Linked DNA regions of Homo sapiens: region 2 is linked to region 1. The links come from fine-mapping of genetic effects on gene expression. Tissue or cell type: tibial nerve. Region 1 holds a variant in brackets; the other region holds the start of a gene. All regions are shown on one strand. Distances are between the middles of the regions.

Evidence for each region. PIP is the estimated chance that this variant, and not a neighbour inherited with it, causes the effect.
Region 2: it holds the start of PLAAT5, and the variant in region 1 is fine-mapped to the expression of PLAAT5 in tibial nerve (GTEx, PIP 0.98).

What each region holds. Positions count from the first base shown.
Region 1 is chr11:63,508,352-63,515,523 of GRCh38, reverse strand. LGALS12 (galectin 12) reads right to left here. Exons shown (of 9, transcript NM_033101.4): 2 at 6,883-6,971; 3 at 6,533-6,746; 4 at 5,627-5,746; 5 at 5,023-5,061; 6 at 4,419-4,445; 7 at 3,684-3,772. Among named protein-coding and RNA genes, the nearest start is that of LGALS12, 5.9 kb to the right of the region's middle. RefSeq lists an enhancer at 4,660-5,291. The variant C/A (reference allele first, on the strand shown) is at 3,827.
Region 2 is chr11:63,487,765-63,494,780 of GRCh38, reverse strand. It overlaps PLAAT5 (phospholipase A and acyltransferase 5), which reads left to right and starts at 3,614. Exons shown (of 6, transcript NM_001146729.2): 1 at 3,614-3,894; 2 at 4,448-4,538; 3 at 5,805-5,910. The coding sequence starts at 3,747.

The DNA.
Region 1 (7,172 bases):
TTGCCCATAGGCCGCTGCTCAGCCCCCAGGGGAAGGATGGAGGTCAGGGAGTGGATGGAAGGTTGAGCTGCTTCAGCCTCCAGAAACAAGCACTGAGGGCCTATGACAGCCTCATGGCTGAATGCTCAGAACAGTGGAAAGAACACGAGTTCTAGATGAACTTGAGATTGACCTCCAGGGTTGCCATCTATGACTACAGGAGGATGGGGGTGGGAGGGAAGTGTGTGAAAATTGCCTAGCCTGAGCTTCAGTTTCTCCTCCTGAAAATGGGGATGATTATGATGATGATAGCTACAGCTAACATTTATTGAATGCTAACTAAGTGCCAGGTATTATCTTAAATGTTTTCCAAACAGCATAGTGGTTAGAGTCAGGCAGTCCCGATTCAACCCTGGCTCTGCTACTTTCTAGTCCTGTGACCTTGGGCAAGACTCTTAATCTCTCTGTGCCTCAGTTTCCTCATCTGTAATGTGACGATAACATAACTGCCCTGTACCTGCCTGTGGCATTGTTGTAAGAATTAAATGAATACATAAAAAAATGCTTATTTAGAATAGCACCTGGAACGTAATAAGCATTCAGATGATACCTATTGTTTAAAAATATTGCTATATAATACAATCTCTACCTCATAGAGCCAAAAAAAAAAAGGAACAAAGGAGATAATGTATGTGAAAACTAGCAATTCCTAGCACACAGTAGGTGTTTTACAGAAGCTAGTTTGCCTTTCCTTAATCCTCACAAATTCTGTGCTGTGAGGTTTGTCAGCCCATTTAAGTGATGAGGACAAGAAGTTAAATGACTTCTCTGTTACTAGTAATAGTGGTAGGGCCTTAGGTTAGGATGTGAACTAGGATTCATGACTCTAGATTTGGGGGTGGGGGGATCTGGCACCTGCCTCTCAAATAGGGCAACCGGATTATATTATTTTTCTTTATTTTATTTTATTTTTTTGAGACAGAGTCTTGCTCTGTCACCAAGCTGGAGTGCAGTGGCACGATCTCGGCTCACTGCAACCTCTTCCTCCCAGGTTCAAGCAGTTCTCCTGCCTCAGCCTCCGGAGTAGCTGGGACTACAGGCGCATGCCCGCACCGCCCAGCTAATTTTTGTATTTTTAGTAGAGATGGGGTTTCACTATGTTGGCCAGGGTGGTCTCGATCTCTTGACCTTGTGATCTGCCCACCTTGGCCTCCCAAAGTGCTGGGATTACAGGCTTGAGCCACCGCGCCCGGCCCAGATTATTTTTATGTCTTGGGAACTTCCCAAGTTTCCTTCTTGAAGAGCTATGCTGGAGAAGGCGCGGCATCCTGATGGGATGCAGAGGCAGGTAAGGTAGGGGAAAAGGCCGCCCTGGACAGGCCTTTCAAGGGCTATTGGTAGATCCTTACAGGAGGAGGCCCCGTAAGTTTCCAACTTTGGGAAGGAGGTGGCCAGGGCCCAATGTTGGGAAGAAGCTTGGAAGGCAGGAACCCTGGAGAGTGGACTGCGTGGAGCCTCCAGCCCCACTATGGCTCCCCCTACCCCGTCCTGCCAGACAACACTGTGTCTTCCTCTGGCCTGCGAACTCCTGGTGAGGAGGCCTCAGTGTCTCCCTACCTCACCTTCATGCAGCTCAGCCCGCCAGATCACTGGATAATCATGAATCACTAGATGCCCACTAGATCACTGAATAATCACAAATCACCAGATGCCCAGTGAAGCTCTGTTGAAGCTCTTTGAGGCTGCAGTCATACACTCCCACTCAATAACGAGGAGGGAAGGGATGAGGTGAAGAAGGAGGGATAGATTTTCACTGCAGATGAATCCTGTGCCCTCCATCTCTTACTCTCTCTGCCCCATTCAAGCCATCAGTTGCTTTCACAAAATAGCAGCAGCTGCATTGGTTGCAGCCTCGCTAAATACCAGGTGCTGTGCTAAATCTTCATGTTGGTGGATCTCGGCTGAACTGGTGTATAGGAATGTTTTGTCTGGTCCATAGTATTCTTCAACTTTAATATAATATTCAAAAATTGAGAGAGTTTATATAAAAGATGGCTTCTATTTTTGCTTTAAAAATAGTCAGAAGATCTGGCATGACTGGGTGTATGGAGATACTCCTTCCCCTTTACCACCTTCCCAACTGGTTTCCTCACTATTTATGAGACCTGTCTGGCCTCTGAGGACACATGCATTCATGGCCCTTGGGAAACAGCAGTTACTTGCTGACTATGTCACTAGTAACCTTGTGACTTTGAGCTACAATATGAACCCGGTCTCATGCCTCCAAGTTTTGTGGGAAGAAGTGTTCCATCACTGAGCACTTTTCATTTTCCCTAGCAGGTTGGAATTATCATTCACCTTTTTCCGGTAGGGAAACTCAGACTCAGAGAGGTTTAGTGACTGGCCCACGACCGCACTGTTTATAAGAGACAAAACCAGGAATCCAACTCAGTCATGCCTGTCTTTGGAGGCCGAGGCCATCGAGTGCTGGGCTTCATGCCTGTCCCAGAATTCACAGGCATGATCGGCAGTGTGCAGGGCAAGGGTTTAGTGAGGTCAGTGACTTAAAAATAAAAACAAAATTAAGCAAGGAGAACATAGGGTGCTTTCCTTACTCTGCCCTCCCCTACCTCCACTGAGATGATTGCAGTAGTACCCACATTTGTGGACACTTACCATGTACCAGGCACTATTCTAAGTACCACCCCTAAAGTCGGCATTATTATCAACCCCCTCTATCTTTTTTTTTTTTTTTTGAGATGGAGTCTTGCTCTATTGCCCAGGCTGGAGTGCAGTGGCGCGATCTCGGATCACTGCAACCTCTGCCTCCCGGGTATAAGCGATTCTCCTGCCTCAGCCTCCTGAGTAGCTGGGATTACAGGCATGCGCCACCATGCCCGGCTAATTTTTCTATTTTCAGTAGAGTCAGGATTTCACCATGTTGGTCAGGCTGGTCTCCAACTCCTGACCTCGTGATCCACCCGCCTCGGCCTCCCAAAGTGCTGGGATTATAGGTGTGAGCCACCGCGCCCGGCCTATCATCCCCTTCTTACAGAGAGGAAAACAGAGGCACAGAGAGGAAAAGTATCTGTCCTAAGGTTGCACAAGTAGGTGTCCTGAGCACATGCCAACCCAGGCATTCTGGCCCAGAGAAGTCATAAACTCTAATGCGTTTCCTCAAGGCAGGCCGGCCAGTGGCTCCTGTCTAACTGGATTGGAGCCACAGGTCTGGGTTTGAAAGCACCATGTAGGAGAAGTTTGGTAATGTCCACTTAGTCACTGGGTCCCTCCAAGTCCTGGCTTCCAAATACCAGCCCTCTTCTCTGGGGCAGTCTGGCTGTATCTTTTGAACCACACATTGTGTTACCATAGGAAGCTACATGTTTGCTCTGGGCCTCAGCCTGCACCTACGAAGGGCCTTTCCTGGGGCCCCTTTCCTAGGACCTGGGACAAGAGGCTAGGCCTGACTAGATGTACCAGCAGGAATGATGCTCCCAGCAGTGGGGCTGTCGGTCCCAGTCCCAGCCTGACCTTCATAAGCTCTGCCAAATTGGGCCACTTCTCCTTTCTGCTCCTCTGTTTCCTCATCTGTAAAATGGGGATTAAATGGTGGTGCTAGGAGATTAAAAGAGATGATGTTTTATAGCATGTGACTGTCACAGAGAGGCTGCTCCCTCCCCTCCACTTAGATGCTGGATACTTACTGCTTCGGCTCTTGCAAGACCAGTCCCCGTACTATGATGACCTGCCCAGGCGAGAGACCCTGGGGAAGAGCATGTGAGCAGGGCACCTCCTGAAGGAACAAGGGAGGTATTGAGAAGTTGACTTCCAGGGGGACTGGGGAGGA[C/A]CGCCCATCCCCGGGGGCCAGGGGAGCACTGGGGCAGGCATGTTCTGCCCAGGCCTGCCGCCAGGACACGCTGCTTATTTGTTAAGCACCTGGCCTCCTGTACTCTGTTATTGCCGAACACTTTCCCCGGCCTGTCCAGGCTGAGCTTGGCCTCTCTGTGTCCCGACCACCATGTCCTTCTCCCTTCACTGCATCCTTAACTGTAATTGCCATCTAGTGGTCTGTCCCCCACCAGCCTGTGAGCAACTGGACGGCTGGGACCAGCTTGTTCCTCTATCCTAGAGCCTGGCACCGGGCCTGGCACAGAGAAGTATCAAGTAATGATGTTCACAATAAGTGGAGAAAAGGTAAAATGAAGCTGGAGCTTCAGCCTGAAGCTGCCCAGCCCACCCACAGCCTGCAGCTTGCTATAAAGGAAGGGGAAATCATGCGGCTGGGGGCATAAGCTGCCTGGCCCACCCACAGCCTGCAGTTTTCTATAAAGGAAGGGGAAATCCTGAGGCTGGGGGCATGTCCTACCAGGCTGAGCTCATTAGCTGCTCACCCAGGCTGCGCCCCCAGCCCTGACAGAGCAGGAGGGAGGTTCACTCACCAGCCTGGGGCTCATCAGCAGGAAAGGCTGTCAGGGAAAGAAAGAGAGGACACAAGGCCATGTGGTATTTGCTCAGGAAAAGGGAAACTCTTGTTATTCTAACAAATTGGGAATATTTGGGGCTTGTCTCTCTCACAGCAGTAGGTGAGTCATTGGAGCCCCAGTGGGATCCTCTGGACTTCAGAGGTTCACCAGCGCTGGAATAATAGGGAAGAACGGGGTGGAGGATTTGTCATCCACTCCCTGTGTGGCCTTGGGCAGTACATGGGCCTCATCTCCCCTTCTGTCCCGCAAGACCAACCCCAGCCACCTTGCAGAGGTGGTTTGAGAAATGAGCATTTCAACTAAGGCCTCTCCTGCTAGGAATACGGGGTCTTGCCCCCTCTGCATGCAGCCCACCCCCATTCATCTTCCCAAGCTGGGCCTGGAGAGGGGCTGGGAGAGGAAAATCCAGGCCCTCCAGAGACTGAAGCAGAGCCAGCCATGTCCGTGGCAACCGCAGCAGTGAGGGAAGGGGCAGCTGGGCCTTGTGTAATGGGAGCAGCAGTCCAGAAGGGCGGGTCAGCTGGTGTGGCTGCTCAGACCTTGCTGCCAAGAAACTCACATGTCCAGCTGGGTACTCTCTGCTGCCCTCCACAAATGGCTGTTCAGAAAGAGAGAAAAGAATCAGCAGCATTTAGGACCACTGCAATCCCCTACCTATGCCTGGGAGGTGGGCAGAGCCCTGGCCTTTACAGCTCCTCATGTTCCCATTCGGCTGGTCAGTGGTAGCTTCTTGCTGGCATTTTGAACATCCCAATTCCTAGGCCCCACCTTGGACTTACTGAATCAGAATCTCTGGTGGCAAGCCCCAGAAATCTGGGCTTTAATAAGCCCATCAGGTGGGAATGATAAAGCCAGCTGCCACCCGTTTCGGCCCCCAGTGTGCCAAATCATTCCTGGCCATTGCTTCTCAGTGTTAACCAGACCCACACTGGTTACAGACTCCTGCCTGCGGCTCCTGGACACCCTTTCTGCCATCACTTTCTCTTCCCCCTCAGCCCACTCACACCCGAAACCTCAGTGGACTCCCTCCCCCTTGGCTATTACTGGTGCACAGGGCGTCCTCTCTCTCAGTCTAGGGTGGAGGAAGGGGTCCCAGGCCCGTCCAGGAGTCAGGGGAAATTAGAGGCTGCCACTGCCCAGGCCTTGGTCCCAAGGAAACTTACATTGATGTTCAGGAATCCAACAGCCTCTACCAGGATGTCACCAAATATACCCAGCGTGTCCACATGAGACAGTGGGAGCCGGTAGCGGAAGTGGAGAAAGTGCTGTCCATTCACACTCACCTGGAGAGACAGACAGAGGCTGGCTTATCAGCAGCTAATGTTCATTGAGTTCATAACAATGTCCCAGGCATTGCCAAGCACTTTTTCCTCAATTTTGCCTCACTTAACTTCACGTCATCTCTATGAGGTAGGTACATTTTACAGAGCCTTGGGCGGCTTAAGTAATCTTCCAAAGGTTGCAGAGCTGGCCTGGAGACTAAGGCACCTTCAACGCTCCCTCTACCCCAACAGAGGCCCCTCATTGTGCTTTCTCAGCAGCCCAAAGAGTCATCTTTGCTCCATTTACGTGAGGAAACTGAGGCTCAAGAGGCTACCCTCCCGCCAGCTGCCCTGTCTCCTGGAGATGTCTGAAGATCCCATCATGTTTCTGGCAGGAGCTCACATTAGGGGTCTAAACCTTGAGATCAAGTTCTCTGTCCCTCTCCCCTGCCACTGTGGCTGTAAGATGGGGATAATGAAGGTACCTACCTAATGGGGTTATTGTGAGCATTCAATGAGCAGATACTTTTAAGGGCTTAGAACAGTTCCTGGTATACAGTAGGTTCTCTCTAAGTGCTTGCCATGACTATGGCAGGAGTGCCCTCTTTGGAGCCAGGCACTGTAGAGCTTTCTTGCTGCCATGTGGGCCCAGGGCAGCCTGGAACCGGGCATGGCAGCTCCTTGGTCCTCTTGGTACCTGACCACTACCAATGCCACTCAACATTGTGTCGTGGGGAGTCTGGCTGAGGGAAGGAAGGGCGCAAGGACACAAATTCTAGACCACCCAATGCCCGTCCCTTCCTTCACCTTCACTTCCTCATTCCCGAAGAGAAAGAGGATGAGGAAGCTGGAGCCTCTTCGCAGGGCCAGGTGGGGCCACCGGGCCTCCCTTTGCCAGCGTCCACCATGCAGGGTGTTGCAGATGACATGGGGCTTGGTGGTATGGAAGCGAGGGTTGAAGTGGAAGGCGATATCTGGCCGGGGACACAGGCTGCAGCCACACTGGAAGTCCACCTGAAACCTACTGGGAGGTGAGGCTCTCAAAGTGCGGTTCTGACCAGAGACCCACAGAGATCTCAGTGGCAGGGAGGAGCCCTCCAGCTCGATGCCTCTAGGGCTGAGCTCCAGCACCCCCTGGGCCACCTCCCCCGCCTTACCTGTGTGCATCTAGAGGGACCACTCCTTGCAGCATGACCATCTTGCCTGCATGCAGGCCTCCAAAAATCGTCGTGACATAAGGAACCACCTGAACAAGAAAAGAAACTCATCCATGCAGGTTTGGAGAAAGGGCTTAGGGACCTCTATGTCAGGCGAGTGGGAGGAAAGGAGCAGAATAAAACTCAACTTTTCCTCTCCAAACAGAAAATTCCTTATAGGTAAAAATCAGTGTTCACTGAAATATTTTCTTCCACCTAATCCCCTTTCCTGGACCGTCACACGGCAAAGC
Region 2 (7,016 bases), 21 kb after region 1:
AGGAATGATGAGCAAAGGTGGTGGCAAACATATAGGCAAATCTAAAAGAATGTCTGCCTAATATAATAATGGTAATAATAATGTGAATTGGGGATTAAAAAGGGGCAGACTAAAATAGCATGGGTAGGAAAGATTAGAGTGAAAGTGTTCCAAGGTCCTTACATTGTTTCAGAGGATTGTTTAGGATATTAATTTTAGACTTAAGCATACATGTTAAAATTTCAAGGGCAATAAGTAAAAGAATACAGTGTAAACTTCCAAATAAGTAGAGGGAAAATGCAATATACTAAGATTAGATATTTATGAAGAATATTAGAAGAATTCATTGAAAGGTTTTAAAACCTAACAATAGAGAGATAGAATACATTATTAACTGAAAGAAACAATTTTGTAAAGATGCCAAAATTGCCAAGCTGATTTATTGATTTACTGTAATTCCAAGCAAAATGCCAATAGGGTATTTTGAGCAACTTGACAAACTAGTTTTGCAATTTATAATGAAAGGCAAAAGCTCAAGCATGGTTGAGAAGTTCCTGAGGAAGAATAAGTAAGGAGGGATCTTGAGATATTTGTACATCAAGATTTATCATAAAGATGTAGCAATTAAAACCACATGATAGTAGCACAAAGACAGATACATTTATCAGTGATACTGAATAGAGTCAACAGTATTCCTGCTCTTTCAAAGCATTATGCAGGACAGAGGTGGCCTTGTTCATCTATGAAGAAGTGGAAACTATCAACAAGTGATGCTGAGACAGTTATTCATATGAGGAAAAATGAAGTTGGATCCCTGCCTCCCACATATACAAAAATCAATTCCAAATGGATTAGCGAAAAAGGCAAAATTTAAAAACATTTTCAAGAAAATATAGGAGACTATCTGGCCAGGCACGGTGGCTCACGCCTGTAATCCCAGTACTTGGGAGGCCAAGGCAGGCAGATCATGAGGTCAGGAGATCGAGACCATCCTGGTTAACATGGTGAAACCCTGTCTCTACTAAAAATACAAAAAAAAAAAAAAAAAAAAAAAGAAAATTAGCTGGCCATGGTGGTGGGCGTCTGTAGTCCCAGCTACTCAGGAGGCTGAGGCAGGAGAATGGCGTGAACCCGGGAGGCAGAGCTTGCAGTGAGCCAAGATAGCACCACTGCACTCCAGCCTGGGCGACAGAGCAAGACTCCATCTCCAAAAAAAAAAAAAAAAAAAAAAAAAAAGAAAATATAAGAGAATGTTTTCTGAATTCAGGGCAAGAAAGACTTCATGAAAAGATAGGGAGCTGACCACAAAAGAAAAGACATGAATTCTACTTGTCAGAAGACATCATGAAGAAAGTGAAAAGACAAGCCATGAACTGCAAGAAAATGTGTGTAAACAAGTATAACTGACTAAAGATGAGTATCAAGAATATACAAAGAGCTCTACAAATCAAAAAGAACACAACTCCAAAGAAAAATGGGCAAAGGACATGAACAGACACTTTTAAAAAGAGGGAATGTGATAAATATATGTAAAGGTCTCAACTTTATTAGTGATCAGGGAAATGCAAATTAAAACGCTGGTGAAATACTATTTTACATTCACTCACCTGGAAAAATCAAGAAGTGTGACAATACTAAGTGTTGGTGAGGATGTAAATTAATAAATCTTACCCATTGCTGGTAGAAGTGAAATTGGGACCACCAATTGGGGAAATAGTTCTAGTGTTTTATTGTAAAGTTGGATATTTGTATATACTCCTAGGTATTACATCTTGTGTGATGTCTGCATGCATACACCAGGATACAAATTGGGTTCTTCTCAATTGTTTCCAACCCCAAATTGAAAAAAAAAAAAAAAAAAAAAAGAACCAACAAATCACCAAGTGGCTTTATCACTAGGTCAATAAATTGTGGTATAGCCACATAGTGGAATATTTTACTGCAGTGAAAATGAATTACAGGACTATACAGCACTGTGTATGTATTATAGAAACAACTTTGAAAGAAGAAAATTGCAGAAGAGAACTTAACAGCATGATACCATTTGTCTTAGTCCATTTGGGCTGCTATAACAAAATACCATACGCTGGGTGGCTTATAAACAACAACAATTTATTTCTCACAGTTCTGGAGGCTGGGAAGTCCAAGATCAAGGCACCAGCAGATTCCTGTCTTGTGAGGGACTGGTCTCAGCAACTGCTGTGTTCTCACATGGTGGAAGTGGCTAGGTAGCTCTGCAGGACCTCCTTTATAAGGGCTCTTATGAATCCCACTCATGACCAAAGGGCCCATCTCCTGATACCATCACTTTGGGGGTTAGAATTCTAGCACATGAATTTTATGGAGTCACAAACACCCAGACCATAGCACCATTTTTATAAAGTTTCAGAGAAGCAAAACAAAGTGATGTATTAGGGATACAAAGAAGCGATTTAAAAAACTATTTTAAAAAGTGAGGGTATGACAGACACAAAGGTCAGGATAGACGTTGGGCGTGCAGAGGGAGAAGGGATAAGGAAGGAATCCATAGGTGGGGAGCATCTGTACTAGGAATGTTCCATTTCTTACGTAGGATGGTTTTGTCATGGGTAGTAATTACATTATGTTTCCTAACTGTGTGCGAGAGAGAAGGAAAGAGAAAATCAGTTGGGGAAGACTCAATGCAGAAGCGGCCTGCCTGAAAAGTCACAGCAACAGGCAAAAATAAAACAACCTGGTAAAAAACTCAGGCTCCACCTGCACACAGATAAGCAGACAGGGTCCAGCACAGAAGCCTTTTGTTCTTTGTATAATTAGGGAGCTCCCAGGAAAGTTTTCTCCCCTTTTCAGGCATATACATGGTGGGAACTTTCACAGGGAGGAGGGGGGCTTACCTAAAACAAACCCACAGTTATGCAAACAAAAAAGGCGGTGCTTTGTGCTTGCATAGATACATAACCACAGCTGCGTAAGACAGCTTTACTGATAAGAGAAGTTACTCAAACTACTACAGAGATAAGAGATTTTCTTGCAAAAGCTTTTGAATTCAGCTGTAACAGGGCAATCCACTTGCATACTCAGCTCACTGTGGAGAGCTTTCTTCTTTCGCTTATTAAACTTTCGCTCCCACCTCACCTTATGTCCCGTTCCTTAATTTTCTTGGAGTAGGACAAAGAATCCCGGGTATCAGTCCAGACAAGGAGAAACTGCTACATTAAGGTACATTGGCAAGACTGCAACATGTGTATTCCATGTACTTTTTCATAAGTTATCTATTACGTAAGTGTAGATTTCATTTTCTATATATTTTTAAAAATAAAACAACTCTGAATTGTTCAAGATTTTAACCCCTGATTGTGCCTCCCAAGGCTTCCTAATCTGGTCTCCATTTACCCCTCCAAGTCACGCCTCTGTTCCAAACCGTTCAGCTTCTCCAGCCACTTTAGGCACCACCTCTGAGCCTTTGCTGTTTCCATGACCTTCCCCAAAACGAATAACCTCCTTCGCCCCTCTCCGCCTAAAAGACCCACAGATTCCCGGGCCTCTAAGCGCCCCGTTTCGTCCCATTCTGTTCTCGGACGCGCTCACTGCGCCCGCGCCACTGTCGCCACCCCGCGCGCCTCTGCCGTTTGCAGCCCGCGGCGCTTTCCCCTCCGCGGTTCCTCCCCGAGCCGCCCCCAGTGCCCAAGCTTCCGCGGCTCCGCCGACCAGGGGCCGCGCCGACTGGGAACTCGCCAGGGGCGTAGTCCCCTGCAAGGCCTGGGGGCCGGCGAGGCCGCAGAGGCGGGATGGGCCTGAGCCCGGGCGCCGAGGGGGAGTACGCGCTCCGCCTCCCTAGGATTCCCCCACCCCTCCCCAAACCCGCCTCGCGAACCGCCAGTACCGGGCCCAAGGACCAGCCGCCTGCGCTCAGACGTTCAGCTGTGCCCCACTCAGGTCAGCCCCAAGAATGCGGCTGAAGGACAATCCGCAATTGTCCTTCAGGTCCCAGCGGGCGGTTACCCTCAAAGCTCCTTTTCTTAAGACATTTGGCGATTGTGTTGTCTGTTAGCCATCATGAGCGAGTATTTCAGAACGACCGCTTGTTATAAAGCTAATCAAAGCGAGCCAGGCAGCCACTCCCTCCTTCCCGCTATATCTCATATGGAAGTGAGGCAGTGGTGGCAGCTCCGGAGGGTGGTGTTAAGACCGGCTCTGGCTCGGCAGAGGTTCCTCCCATCGGGCTTAGGATAGAGGCGAGGCGCCCTTCTTCATCCTCTCCCCGATTCCGTTCCCAGGAATCCCAAAGTCTCTCTTTGGCAGAGGAACTGAACCCGCTCCAGCACCTAGTTCCACAACCCTCTCCATTCATCCCAAGATTTTCTGAGGCCTAACCAGGGGCCAGGCACGATGCTAGACTAGAGCTCTGAGCCCACTCTCCGTAGCGGTCAAGGTGCTTGCTCGAACTCTCCTTTCACAGGTCTAAATAGCATTTCCCCCCTTGAATTAGAAGAATCCGTGGGATTCGCAGCGTTGGTCCAGCTCCCAGCCAAGCAGCCTCCGCCGGGCACATTAGAACAGGGCAGAAGCATCCAGCAAGGGTAAGAAGATTGTAAGGTTGGGGTCTTTGGGTGGAAGAAATCTTTTGGAGAATTGACTTGGAATGCAGTTCTGTAAAACAAACCCAGAGGTGGTTTTTGTGTGAACCAGCCAGCCGGTACCCAGCAAGGGGAAGGCTGGTGTGATCCTGGGTGATAACAGATGGTACTGGGCTTGGGACCTGCTGGCCACAGGCATGCGTTGCAGCTGTTTCTAGCCACAAGGCCATTCTCTAGACCCCAGAGAAATGAATGGCTTTAGCAGGAGGCTTACAGTATTGTCCTTGGTCTCACTAATCAGTGAACAATGAGTCGGCCTTTGGCAGATTTCCTGAATTCACTTTCATTAACAACATGATGATTGCTGCTTTAAAAAATTCCGAGGGGCTGAAATTTTGGAGAGGAGCTCTACTGAAAATGAGGGGTGTCCCCTCTGCCCCACACACTATTTTTTTCTGGAGAAGAGTTTAAAGCATGGGAAAAGGTAAAGAAAAAGTCATTTCTGAGTTGGTGGTATACCAGATGTTTACATGTGCTGTGTCCTTTCACCTTCTTGACCACTGTGAGACACATTTTCATCTCTATTTTTAAAGATAATCAAGCTGAGAGTCAGACATTAATTTACTAGCTCAAGGTGGGACAGCAATCATGAAAGCTAGGATTCAAACCTAGATCTTTTGGCTTCGAAGTATTTTACTCTACTATACTACCTTAATTTAATATGCTTGAAAGCATATTCTTGCCTTTCATTTCTGTCCTCTCCTGTAACATTTTGTTTCAAGGGAGAAATATACTGATTTCATTCATATTACTTGCAGTTGCAGTGTTGTGGCTTATCAAGCTTTCTTAGAAATCTGGGGCTAATTATTGGAAGAAAGAGTTCAAGGGGTTTGCCTCTGGGCAGTAGGGCTGGGATGAAAAGGGAAAGGAGGAAGGCTCCTTGCATTTCATTATAAATTCTTATGTACTGGAAACCATGTGCAAGTATCACTTTGATAAACATTAAAAAGACATTATTAGCAAATTAAAAAATAAAAACCCCCAAAACTGCTTCTTGCTATCATTAGCATTTGAACAATTGTCAGAAAACCAGCAAACAGCAATTCTTTTGTATGAAAGCTAATGGGTTCACAGAAACAAACGGGGGGAAATGTTCCCTACAGTCTCCAAACCAAAAGCCATCTTAAAAATCACAAATCTGTAATACAGATTTTCCAATAATTATGAAATAGTGATATTTGTTAACTTTGTGATTGCAAAATCATTTAGGGAGAAGGCTGTAGTTAGCTTGGAGACCACACCCAGCCAGAAAGCAGACTGGAGTTCAATTCCAAAGCCTGAGAATGAAGGCAAGTTAATAAAGCAAGCAGCTGAGGTAGGTGTAACAAGAATTCTCAAAGTGACTATCTTTAACCTCCTGGCAACTTCTCTACATATTGTATTTTACTTTGTTTCTAGGGGTGTCCAATCTTTAGGCTTCCCTGGGCCACACTGGAAGAAGAAACGTCTTGGGCCACACATAAAATACACTAACACTGACGATAGCTGTTGAGCTTAAAAAAAAAAAAAACCCACAAAAAAGTCTCATAATGTTTTAATAAAGTTTACAAATTTGTGTTGGGCCACATTCAAAGCTGTCCTGGGCTGTATGTGGCCTGTGGGCTGCGGGTTGGACAAACTTGGTTTAGATGGTCTAATAAATATCCTGATTTGGGATGTTGGTTATGCTTTGTTTTAAAGCAGTTTTATTGAGGTGTAATTGACATATAGTAAACTCCACATATCTAAAATATACAATTTGATAAATTTGGCATATATATATGCCAGTGAAGTGTATAGTTTGATACATTTTGACATCTATATATATATCCTGTCAAATCTTCACCACAATCAAGATAATGAATAATCTCTGTCATTTACAAAAGTTTCTTTGTGCCTTTTGTAATCCCTCTCTCTTCCCATACCACTCCCATCCCCAGGCAACAACTGATATGCTTTTTGTCACCATAGATGTGTTCACATTTTTAGAGATTTATATGAAATCATATTGTATGTGCACTTCTTTGTCTGTCTCCTTCATATAACTATATATATTTTTTTCGAGATGGAGTCTCGCTCTGTCGCCCAGGCTGGAGTGCAGTGGCGTGATCTTGGCTCACTGCAAGCTCTGCCTCTTGGGCTCACGCCATTCTCCTGCCTCAGCCTCCCGAGTAGCTGGGACTAGAGGCACCTGCCACCATGCCCGGCTAATTTTTTGTATTTTTGGTAGAGACGGGGTTTCACTGTGTTAGCCAGGATGGTCTCGATCTCCCGACCTCATGATCCTCCCGCCTCGGCTTCCCAAAGTGTTGGGATTACAGGCATGAGCCACTGCAGCCAGCCCATATAACTATTTTGACTGACATCCATGTTGTTGCTTTTTATCAACAGTTCATTCCTTTTTATTACTGAGCAGTATTTCATTGTATGGATATACCACTC